3 separate regions of the Homo sapiens genome follow, and regions 1 and 2 are each linked to region 3. Evidence: fine-mapped expression QTL. A gene starts in region 3. Each other region holds a variant in brackets. All regions are shown on one strand. Distances are between the middles of the regions.

Region 1 (4,121 bases), 220 kb after region 3:
AGGCTGAGGTAGGAGGATTTAACTCAGGAAGTCGAGGCTGTAGTGAGCTGTGTTTGTGCCACTGCACTGCAGCCTGGGCAACAAAGTGAGTCTGTTTCAAAAAAAAAAAAAAATTTTTTTTTTTTAAACATTAGCCAGATATAGTGGCACATACCTGTGGTCCCAGCTACTCAGGATGCTAAGGCCAGAAGATCGCTTGACCCTGGCATTTGAAACTATGATGGTGCCACTACACTCCAGCCTGAGCAACAGAGCAAGACTCTGTCTCAAAAAAAAGATCCATTTCTGACGGATGGACTTATTAATCAACTTCTCGAGAAATACTAAAGCCAAAATAAGAAACACTGGAGCCAAAATAAGAATCTATTAATTTGTTATGAGAATTACCACTCTCCTAGGTGTTAGATTTCTTGGTACTGCATGTTCAGTGCACATTCTCAATGCCAGTGTATTATTTTCCAAATAGAAATAATTACTCAACTGCATAGGAAACCCAAGCATAAGCTTGTTTGCTTGGGGAACATGGTTTCAGCCAAAGGGGTGTTGGATGAATCAAATATTTAAATGGTCTCAGGCTGGGATAGTCTGAGGCGCGCTGTCCTTCTTTCCCTTGAGATGATGCTACTTGGGACCTAGAATCCTTGAAGTGCATTGCCTAAGAGTCCCTCTTCAGAGAAAAGGGAATGATTGCTTTTTTTTTTAAGGTACTTACATTTTTGATCAATACAATCTTTCTTAAGATACAGTAATATTTTCCTTCTTTATTTCTTTCCCTCCTTCCCTCCCTCCCTCCTTCTCTCTCTCCTTCCTTCCTTTTTCCTTTCTTCTTTTCTTTTCTTTTTTTTTTTTTCCGGAGTCTTGCTCTGTCGCCCCAGGCTGGAGTGTAGTGGCACAATCTTGACTCACTGCTACCTCCGCCTCCCAGGTTCAAGCGATTCTCCTCCCTCAGCTTCCCGAGTAGCTGGGACTATAGGCATGTGCCACCACGCCTGGCTAATATTTTGTATTTTTAGTAGAGATGGGGTTTCACCATGTTAGCCAGGATGGTGTCAATCTCTTGACCTCATGATCCTGCCCACCTCACCCTCCCAAAGTGCTGGGATTACAGGCATGAGTCACTGCACCCGGCCCAAGATACAGTAATATTTTCTACTGAGTTAAAGATAAGTCATACTATGTTTGGGAGACATCTTATCTCACTCTTACTCCATTTCTTGGTTTTGATCCATTGACTGATTCAACTATCATACTTTAACTTCAAGAGCAATCTTATTTTCTTCATTTGCAAGTCTTGGAGAAAATCTCGTTGCAGCTAGTAAGTTTGGCCTGTAGTCTGTCTGCATCAGAACTCCTAGGTGTTTCTTTTTTTTTTTTTTGAGATGAGTCTTGCTCTGTTGCCCAGGCTGGAGTGCAGTGGCGCGATCTCGGCTCACTGCAAGCTCCACCTCCCAGGTTCACGCCATTCTCCTTCCTCAGCCTCCCGAGTAGCTGGGACTACAGGCGCCCGCTACCGTGCCCGGCTAATTTTTTGTAATTTTTAGTAGAGACGGGGCTTCACCATTCACAGGATGGTCTTGATCTTCTGACCTTGTGATCTGCCTGCCTTGGCCTCCCAAAGTGCTGGGATTACAGGTGTGAGCTACCGCGCCCAGCCTCTCCTAGGTGTTTCTTTAAATGTAGATACCTGGGCCCTACCTGTGCCTTACAGACTCAGACGCAGGTAGTGGGTCTCAGGAACCTGCATTTTAACTTCCTCCTCTATGCATCATTTGAGAAGCATGGCTCAGATTCTGACACAGGAACTGCTTTAGTTAGGGCCTTCTGTTGTGTTTGAAGTGCTGTGTTCCTATTATAATGGATACTGATCTGGCTAACATTTAACAAGAATCACAGCCTTAATGAAAAACGTGGAAAACATTTATTTTCTTTTAAAAAATAATATTTTCTTTTGTTTTTGATAGAATCAAGTAGAAGTGGCCAGGCATGATGGCTTATGCTGTAATCCCAGCACTTTGGGAGGTTGAGGCAGGAGGATTGCTTGAGGCCAGGAGTTTGAGACCAGCCTGGGCAACATAATGAGACTTCATCTCTATAAAAAATAAACAAAAAATTAGCTGGGTATGATGGCACGTGCCTGTAGTCCCAGCTACTCAGGAAGCTGAGGTGGGAGGATCTCCTTGAGCCCCGGAGGTCAAGGCTGCAGTGAGCCAAGATCACACCACTGCACTTCAGCCTGGGAGACAAAGGGTAACCCTGTCTCAAAAAACATTTTTGTTAAAAAAAAAAAAAAAAAAAAAAAAGAGAGAAGAGTTCTTAATTGCTCCTGTGCTCCAGAAATTAAACTACTGGAAATCTCTTCTCTTGTTCTTGTCCCTAAAATGGAATTTGTGCCATAAGCTTTACTGCACTATGAACA[C/T]TGAATATTTAAATCCCAGCTGTGCTATTACTAAATGGATGATTGTGGCTGAGTCACTTAACACCATACGTTTCCTCCTCTGTCAAATAGGGTTAATAATAGTCTCTGCCTTGTGGGGTGGTTGTGATGATTAACTGAAACAAGACATGTGGGGCACAGAACGTAGTGATTGCCATGTAGTAAGGGCTCAGCAAAAATTGGATTTTATAAATATTCTGGTATGGAAAATTAATTCTCCCACTGAAGGAAAAGCACAGAGAGAGAGTAAAAGAGGGACTACGATTGTGTACACAAACAGAAAATAACTTCAGATAAGCAGCAGAGTAGACTAGAACAAGTAGGCAGGAAGACAGTGTTTCACAACGTAGAGATCCTGCACATGGCAGGCCGGCCTATCTCCATCCGGCCCTGTGGTTTGGCTTGTTCGTCATTGCCCATGAGCCTCGGTCTTACTTGAAGGGGTGAGGAAGGTGATGGGTCCTGAGGGTGGTGCAGCTCCCTGGCCTGGACATCGGGGGTCGGTCTTCTGCTCGTGATACTCCTGCTCGCTGGCTTCATACTTCCCGCGTTACTTCCAGGGGTTACCAGCGTTTCCATCCAGTCATTTCACACACCTCATTGAACAATTTTCCAAGTGTTGGTTTGCTCTCTTCCTTACTACATATTAATGAGGTGTCCAAGACTGCTGTTCAGCACGTATCTAAAATGTTGTTTAACTACATCAGAAGGTAAATCTATAGCTGCTGAAGCGAACTAAAAAGCTGTGTCAATCTGGTGCAGTGGCTCACACCTGTAATCCCAGTGCTTTGGGAGGCTGAGGTGGGAGGATAGTTTGAGGCTAGGAGTTTGAGACCAGCATGGGCAACATAGAAAGACCCCCCCCCATCTCTACCAAAAATAAATAAATAAATAAAATTAGCTAAGTGTAGTGCCGTGCACCTTTAGTACCAGCTACTCGGGAGGCTGAGGCAGAGGATGTCACTTGGGCCCAGGTGGTCAAGGCTATAATTATGCCACTGGCTTCCAGCTTGTGCAACAGAGTGAGACCCTGTCTCTTAAAAACAAGCAACAAACAAAAAAGGCAGCTGCATTGATAATCAGTCAGGTAAAGCATCGTCATTTTCACTTTCAAAAAGTTGTTCTGAGTATTAAGTGTTAGCAAAGATGCTTTTCTCTCTGTAGTATTTTTAGCCTTAACAGTTTTCACTCTTAATTTCAGTGTGAGTGTGGTGTGTGTGGTGTCTGTGCGTGAGTGTGAGAGAGAGAGATGGGGAGGAGGAGGGAGAGTGAGAGCAGTGTTCTGATTGTAGAACACCCTCACAGGTAGAATTGTTATAACTTTCTAATTGCAGACCACTCTCATAGAAGATTCTTAAGGAAACCTCAGCCCACCTTCTGAAGGGATGAGACGAGTAGCATCTTCAAGTGAAATGCCCTCTGGGGTCTGAAGGTTCTAAAAAAAATCCTAGAAAACCAAGGAAGATGGTGAATTATGGAAGAACTACCCAGATGATTTTCAAAGCTGTAAATTAACAAGTGTGTCTGTTTTAGGAGGAGGGGGTGAAAAGTCTAGGGTGTGTGTGTGTGTTTTTCTTTCTTCTTTTCTCTGTTCACTTGCCAAAAACAAACAAAAATGACCTCACTTCAGACACAGGGATAAAAGCAGGAGGAAATTGCTATAGTTAGAACACTATAGGTTTTTTTT
Region 2 (4,121 bases), 280 kb after region 3:
ACCCCGGGCATTGGGTCAGTCCCCCTAGACACACTGTCTCTGAGGAGCTAAGGCTCCAAGGCTCTCCCAGAACTGAGCAGGATCAAGTAATCAGAGAAAGGGAGGTTGCAGCCTGGACAAGGTCAGGACAAGCACCAGGAGGGTGTCCCAGCTATGACTGTGGTACCAGAATGTCACTCAGCTGTGCAAGGCTTTAGCTGCATTGCCTGGAGGGTTACCAGGCTCATGGAAGCTTGTTGCTCATAGAAGATGGTCCCTGTTGGTCCGTTACCACCTCTTTCCCCATCTTTGTGTTTGTCTTACCTGAGGCATATTGTCCAACTTGCTTTTTCCCCTTTTAATGTTTTTCTCTTTGTCTCTCCTCTTCCTCCTTCATCTCTCCCACCCCTACGGGGGTGGATACAGACTTTCTGTAGAACCAAAGAATCTCTGTTGGGTTGTGCTTTTTTAAAAATTTGTTAACTAAAAATTATTAGCAAAACTTATTAGCCAAATATAGAAAATATTCTCTCTTCTTAATTAAAAAAGTTAGATGAATAGACCATGTAATTCTTAAAATTTAAGACAAAGTGACTTTGTCTTTCATTGACTTTAATTTTTTAAAAAAGAAAAATTATGGTCACTTATACATTGGAGAAAGTTTGTCATATTTGATGTAAATGAATAGTTGTAAATATAGGAGGGGAAAAAAGATCTTTGGCCCAGTCATAACACATATAATGCCAGTTTCCATTTCCTTACTGAGTTTTGTGCTAAAGGATTTCCTTAAGAGTGCCCGTGTTAAGTTTTTGTAAAATCACTATACAGAGCCTTTGTTTATTTAAATCTGTAAAAGGTGATTGTTGGACATTTGCCATCTAACTCATGTTTCCATAACATGAGAGCTGGATTCTGACAGTCTTAATACTGTTTTTAGCTTTTGCTTTACAGATACCCTTATGTCCAAAGAGTAAATGCATTAAAAATTTTAAAAACCACACACACGCAGAGAACTGTTTTAATTAGGTACTGAAGACTTTTCTGAGTACTTGTTTTAGAAAATACTCTTCTTTTACTTTCTGTAGCCTCAACATATAGGGTCCCTTGGGGATAATTTCTGAAATTCTTTTTGTGAGGTAACTTTGTTTTTCTTGTTTCTTTATAAATTTCTCCACAAAGACACAATTATCTTGGGTCTTCCTAATTCATCATCTGATTATCCTTTTTTAAAGTTCAACTTAACAACAAATATTGCTCACATGTAAACAGTGATGACAATTTGAGGCCATATAAGCTTGTTTTCTTTTTGAAAAAGAAATTCTAGCTTAAAATTTTATTTTGTACTTGATATTTCAGGTCCTCATCTCACATCCATATTAGTAGCCCTACAGTGGTCCAAACCGAAATTGGTCACTGGCCCATCTGGAAATATGAGAAAAATTGGGCATCTTTCTCTCAGGAAAATGTACATGTACAAAACCCCGCACCCATTTCAGGGGTTCATAGCTCCTCCGAGCTAACAGGTTAAGATTGCCCTAGGTTATTAATTTTCTCTTCATAAAGACTGAACACTGCTTCTGGGGGTAGAGTGAGGGGAAAGGTAAGGGATTGGGCAACATTCCTGCCCTTTATTCATTAAGAGAAATTATTTTTTAAAAGTAAATATAGTGGTCTAAGTTCCCATTTTATTTTGAAAAGCTGCAGTTTAGGTGCCTAGACCAAAAATGAAAATGACACCACATGTGCAATAGTAATAATGGGTCTAAATTTG[A/C]AGTGTCTTTGCTCTCAGAGAGGCTTGCAGAGTTTGGTAAGTGCATGTTGCACCAGGCGCCATGGCTTACGCCTGTAATCCCAGCACTTTGGAAGGCCTAAGTGGGAGGATCACTTGAGCTCAGGAGTTCAAGACCAGCCTGGGTAGCATAATGGAACCCCCATCTCAACAAAAAAGTTTTAAAAAATTAGCCAGGTGTAGTAGCATGCACCTGAATAGTCCCAGCTACTCAGGAGGCCAAGGCAGGAGGATTGCTTGAGCCAGGAGGTCAAGGCTACAGTGAGCTGTGATTGGGCCACTGCACTCCAGCCTGGGTGACAGAGTGAGACCCTGTCTCAAAAAAATTTTTAAACAAAATAAATGCATCTTTCGACGCACAAGACATTTAAGCTTAGTTTTTTTCTGCTTTTAGTGGTTTTTAAAACTGTATCAATGTTGTGAGTAAAAGTTATGGGTCATTATTCACTTCTCATTTTCAAAGAACTTCAGTTGAAAAGTGATTTAGCTGAAAAGTTTTGATGGTTGATTTCTTATACAAACAGATTTGCCTAACCAGTCAGTAAAGCAATTCACAAGACTGTCCCTGAGTTTTATTAGCCTTGCTTGCTTATTTCCCCAAATCTTAGATGAAAAATACTTGAATATTCACTAGGCCTAGTAGAAAGAAAAGACATTTTCTCATTGTCTGAGGTGGATGGAGCAGTTGTTTAGATTTGGAAATCAGTTATTGCAAGAGCTCTCGCAACAAAGCCAGGCTTCATGCCTTGCACTATAATTACGTTTAGAAAATCATTTCATGATCAAGTATTAATTTGTGAAGAAGCTTTTGAAGCAAAAAAAAAAAAGTAGAGCTTTTATGAATTAGAGAAATTTATGTTAGACTGTTTAGAGTTGTTTTTTGTTAGGTTAAATTTCCGCCAAGTGTTGATGTCAGTCTGTGTTCTTCACTAACCCTCTCTCCCCATCATTCTCCTTTTTTTCTTTTAAGTGAAAATATCTTGACCCCCAACTTTTGGGGCCCTCAGCCATGGGCATTCCCTAGTTTCCAAACAAACACGGTACCCGTCCCTCATTCCACCCCCACCACCAGAAAACAGTTCTGTTTGGTTTATAGGGAGGAAAATGATTATTATGGAATTAGGTATGCTAGTTATTGAATACTTGGAATTATATTGTTTGCTTTTAAAATTACCTTAAGGAAATAACTTCACTGTCTGCTTCTAATAATGTTTAGTCATTTATTTGGTAAGTAATTAAAGCACCATCACTCTCCTGCCCTCGTCTTCAGGTGATAATCTAGACATAGAGGGAGTGAGCCAACAAGTTGCTGTTAGAGTTAACTTGTTCCCTAACCCATCTTGTGAATATCAATGCTAACAACAGTGTCTTGTGTTTTTTTTTTTTCTTTTCTTTTCTTTTTCTTTAAATCAATGTGCTTTTTTCCTATGTGAATAATTATATGTCTAGAAACAGCCATGGAGTGATTTTGCTGTTCTGAATGGGGGAAAGATTAATAGTGACATTTGGAAGGCAAGTATATTGTCAGATCTTAGATCATTTAATATTTTATCCTTTCTGCATGGCTGTGGCTGTATATTTTTCTTCTTTGTGAATATCATGCATTCTGCAGGGACACAGTGATCGGGCTTCTTGCTAGGGGCATTCAGCTCACACTCCTGTTGCCTTTTTTTGGTGTCTCCCATTGTGAATGCCCTAGGTTCCCCGTTGTTTTGTAAGAACAGGAGTTTGCACCAGTCAGCATTCAACAGTCCTTGCATGCCTTTCTCTGCCTAAGCTCACGTACACTCTCTGCCTCTTGCTGGGAAGACGTTTCTCCCCTTTGATATTTGAGGCAATGAATGGTCTTCTCCCCCATTGTACATTAACAAGGTTCTATTTTCCTCTAGGATTTGCATGCAGCCACTGTTAACCCGGACCCCAGTTTAAAAGAGTTTGAAGGAGCAACCCTACGCTATGCATCTTTGAAACTCAGGTAGGACATTAGTAGGATCGACCTGCTGTCAATGTATGGCTTTGTGCAGATAGTTTGCAATAGAATTCTAAGTCCACTTTTCTGTTTTTCTGCCTAGAAATGCCCCACACCCTGATGATGATGATTCTTGTAGTATCAACAGTGACCCAGAAGCCAAGGTTTGTAAAGACTTGCTTTCAGCCACCAGGTTATATTCTTAGATCCAAATAATGACTTTGGATCATTGTCCAGTTTTTACAAACCATCAACCCAGAGCCATTTAATAAGTAATTATCCCTCAATTTTCTCTTTCCTAATCTCCCTGACACTTGAAGAAAACCCCTAGGCTAAGTTAGGTTTGGGGGGATTTCTAGAACCATCAAGACTCTGCCTGTATCT
Region 3 (4,121 bases):
CAGGCTCCGCTCACCTACCCCGGACCCCCGAGAGAGAGCGGGGTGGCCAGGCCGGGTTCCGGGGATCTGAGGGGAGCTGTGAGGTCCGGGAATAGAGTGCCTTGGAAAGAGGACCCGTCTGCAAGGTTGGAGGCTGGTCGATCTCCGCTCCTGACGGGAATGGTGGTCTTGGGCTGGTTTCCTTGCCTCTTTGGCCTTGAAGATCACAGACTAAGAACCACAGGCTCTCCAGTTCAGAGAGCCTGTATTTTCCCCAAGAGGTCTACTGTGGCCCTCGACTGTCCTTGGTCCACGGACGTGTTAGGTGGATCTTGGGGTGCAGAGACTCAGTCCCAAGAGTAAACACTTTTCATGAATTTATAGGGATTTCTCTGTGACAGTATTGTTTTTATGTTGTAGGAAGGAGGGACATGATTGCTGGCCTCCAGCTCGGTCTGAGGGAGATAATTGTTAATTGGAGAGGTTATTGGAGTGCAAAAGTCAGAAACCACCTTCCACAAGGCAGCCCCCCTCCCATCCCTTCGTAACAACCTCACTGAGTCTGCATGAGGGTCCCTCTATACACTCTATTCGCACCTTGTGCATTTCCCTCCCAGCACTCTACCTGTTTGAAATAACCGTTTTGAGTGATTATTTGATAGGTGTCTGTCACCCGGCCGGACTATAAATTCCATGAAAGCAGGGGCCTGGGCTTTTAAATTCACCACTATCCTCAGGCCTAGTACAAGACCTCGTGGATCCTTAATAAACTCATGTAGGAAAGAATAAAGTAATGCCCACCCCACTGCATAGAGTCCTCATAGGAAGAATCACGTGAGTTTTTAATTCGAGATCCTTGGTAGGACTGTGTGTGTGTGTGTGTATGGGTAGGGTTCTCTAAAGTGTATAGTCCTCACACCAGCAGCATCAGCATCCCATGGGAACTTGTTAGATATACAGATGCTTGGGCCCCACCACATATCTACCCATTCAGAGACACAGATTGGGACTCAGGGATTTGTACTTCAGCAAACCCTCCAGGCGATTCTGATCCAGGCTCCAGTTTGACAACCGCTGCCCTGGTGAAGAGCAATCCTAAGGATACTTTGGGGATGTCATTCACAGCGTCTGGGGCAGAGCACGGTTTACCGTTTACTGAGACTCGACTCTTATCAGGGCTTTGTTTGCACGCTTACAATTAGAGTTATAGATAATATTATTGGCAATGGAAAGGAAAACCTCCTTTTCCTCTCCGGCAGTTGTATCTCTCCCCTGATATTATCTTGTGATTTCCGGATCAAAGAAGAGTGTGTGTGCGGCATATGCCTGGGGGTGGGGATAGGAGGTAGAAGGAAGGAGAAGGTGTCGCCTACAACTTGCAGTTAGCCTGGGTGGGTGTGGGCAGCTCTCCTGTGGGGACATTTTCCTATTGCAAGGGAATGCTGGCGTGTGGGAGAAAAGCCAGGGCTAAGGTAACCCAACTGCCTTTTGGTGCAGACAGACACCAGCCACACGGAGGGGATACCCGGGCTGCACTGCACGTCCTGCCTTTGGGTCTTACTGGGGGACCCATTGCCTCCCTGCGTGTTCCCAGGCGATTGGGGAGGGTGCCTCCCGCAGGCCCTGCCGCCTCCACCTGCAGGGGTCGCCCTGGGAGCGCGGCCCGCCTCCTTCTGCCCGGCCCCCACCCCCCGGCCCCGCCTTTCTCCCATTCGGCCCCCTCCCCGCCGGGTCCCTCCAGCCTTCCCTCGCGCAGCCGCTGCCAAAGCCTGGAGAAGTGGAATCTCGTCAGCGCCGCTCCCTGCGCGGGACTCGCGGAACGGCACTGAGCATGCTCAGTTGCCGGAGCCCGTTCTGGTCTCAAGTAGGAAGCTAGTGCGCTGTAACCGCATCTGATCTGGGCGCTCCGGGAAGGGCGAGACTGGAGCAGAGCCGCTGGGCGCCGGAGCCGAGGCGAGCGCCGCGCGCACCACTGGTGAGCCCAGCTTTCTTCCTTGCCTTTGCCCCGGATTCCGGGGCAGCACGAGAGTGCTGGGGAAACACCCGGGTAGCGGCAGCAGCGTGCGGCGAGCGGCTGCGGGTTCCCCCGGCGGCTTCTCCTCTGCTCCCGGCCCCGGGGCTCCGCGGCCACTGCTGCCCGCTCAGCCGCAGCCACACCTGCAGCAGCTGCCGCGGCATCTGCAGCGGGGCGCCTGCTGCGGAGTCCCGTGCGCCCTGCGCCCGCGCCGCAGGGCCAGTGGCACGGCGACTGCGGGCTCACTCTCCTTGACTTCCATCCCTCCCGCTTCCCGGCGCCCTCTTTCCCTCAGCAGCCCCGGCTTGGCAGGGCCTGGGGCGGGGGAGACCGGGTTGGAGGCGGTGCGCCCGGGTGGGGACTGCAGAGGGGAAAAGTGAGGGTGGGCGCCTGCGGGAAGAGCGCACACCCCCTTGTCCTGGCACCGGCCTCCGCTGTGCCGCTCGGCTGTCTCTCCTGGGCGGCAGCGCGCTCCTGCCGGGGAGTTGGAGCCGGGGTTGGCTTCTCCACGAGGGGTTCAGAGGCCAGCCCATGAGACATGAAAGGGGGGAAAAGTTCCTTTTCCCCCTCGGTGGCAGAGAGAGCGTTTAACTAGAAAATGGCTGTGCATAGGGGACCGACTCCAGGAAACTGGCCACTGGGACCCGAAAGCCCCTGCGCTGCCCACCGGGCGGAATGGAGGGTGGTACGCTAGAAATGACATTTGTGCGGCGAGAACAGAGCTGGACGGAGGGAAGGATGCTGAGACCCATAGAAACAATGAAAGGTGGTCTTCACGTCGGTGAAGTGGTGTAGACTACGGGTTCGGGGCAAACAGCCGAGGGAGCATGGGACTAGAATTCAAAAAAATAAATTAATTTGGATAAATCATATGTGGAGTTGTCACCGACCGTTCTGTAGTCAAGTTCTGCGCGGTTTTAGAGCCACGACTGTCACAGACGTTTTTGGATGGATTGAGTGGTTGAGGAGGGTTAAAATTGAGAGGAGAATAAGGTCAGTGTCGGAAGCTCCAACTGGGCTCTCGGAGGGGACAGTTTGTTTAAGTCCCTCAGTCACTGGCTTTACATTGTGTCTAATTACTTACGTGAAATACCCAAAGGATTATCATAAAATGATGCCATCGGTGGTGTTTGAATTCCAAGGAATGAGGAAACTTTGTGAGGTTGGCATGGGTTTATCATTTGTTTTAATATTTCACTGATTTAAAAAAAACAAACACAATGGCAGTTTGATCTGTTGTTTCTGGAGTTTACTCTCTTAAATCTTGCTTTTTTTTTTTTTCTTGTCATGGTTTCAGATTTAAAATCTTGTCCCCAAATGGCCATAATAATGCAGAGTATTAGAATTTGTGTGGCTGGCCTTTTAGGAACAGATGGAATCCTTGAAAGGGGATTTCTTCATGAACTTAGGTAGCAACCTTCTCGTTTTCAACTTGTAGCTTGTAAGCAATATTTGTTCAACAGTTGTTTATCATAACTTGCAACATCCTAGAAATGGCATCGTTCGTGAAGGATGGTATTTGTGGCGAGAATGGGGAAACCTCCAGGCTGGGGAAATGCCGAGAGAACACAGGTGGCAGTAGAGTACAGTGGGTTGATCATAGGGCGGAAGGTGGTGGGGTACAAGTACAAGATTTCAATTGCTGTTCTTTCGTTGTCCATGTACTGTATGACCCCGAAGTCACCGACAGTCTTCGTAAACTGGATGTAACCACGTCTCTAGATATTTGCTGAGAGCCTTTGAGAGACGACTCTAAAGTTGAGATCCTTTCCACAGAAGGTTTTTAGGTCCTATGCTTTTATTCCCTCTTCTAATGGATACTTTTAACTGAATAAATTCACCTTCAAGGAGCCAATGTGAACTGGCTTTCTGAAATTTTTATAAAGTGGTAATTGAAAAGCTGGATGGTGAGGTGGGAGGATTGCTTGAGCCTAGGAGTTTGAGGCTGTAGTGAGCTATGATCACGCCACTGCACTCCAGCCTGGGCAACAGAGTGAGATCCTGTTTCTGAAAAAAAGAAAGCTTGATGAGCTAAAGTGCAAAATACTGGTGTTTACACTTAGCTGGAGTAATGTGAATACTGACTCCAAAATTACTTGGGAAAAAACTATTGCATATATTGTAAGAA

The links. PIP is the estimated chance that this variant, and not a neighbour inherited with it, causes the effect. A credible set is the group of variants that fine-mapping cannot tell apart.
Region 1: its variant is the best candidate, but not a certain one, in a credible set for the expression of APBB2 in lung (TOPMed, PIP 0.63).
Region 2: its variant is the best candidate, but not a certain one, in a credible set for the expression of APBB2 in aorta (GTEx, PIP 0.54).

The regions. Positions count from the first base shown.
Region 1 is chr4:40,991,541-40,995,661 of GRCh38, reverse strand. The region is part of intron 6 of APBB2 (amyloid beta precursor protein binding family B member 2); the gene reads left to right. Among named protein-coding and RNA genes, the nearest start is that of APBB2, 220 kb to the left of the region's middle. The variant C/T (reference allele first, on the strand shown) is at 2,417.
Region 2 is chr4:40,934,236-40,938,356 of GRCh38, reverse strand. It overlaps APBB2 (amyloid beta precursor protein binding family B member 2), which reads left to right. Exons shown (of 18, transcript NM_004307.2): 8 at 3,218-3,280; 9 at 3,658-3,743; 10 at 3,841-3,901. Among named protein-coding and RNA genes, the nearest start is that of NSUN7, 190 kb to the right of the region's middle. The variant A/C (reference allele first, on the strand shown) is at 1,751.
Region 3 is chr4:41,212,238-41,216,358 of GRCh38, reverse strand. It overlaps APBB2 (amyloid beta precursor protein binding family B member 2), which reads left to right and starts at 1,817. Exons shown (of 18, transcript NM_004307.2): 1 at 1,817-1,954. RefSeq lists silencers at 1,553-1,722, 2,133-2,442 and an enhancer at 3,445-3,524.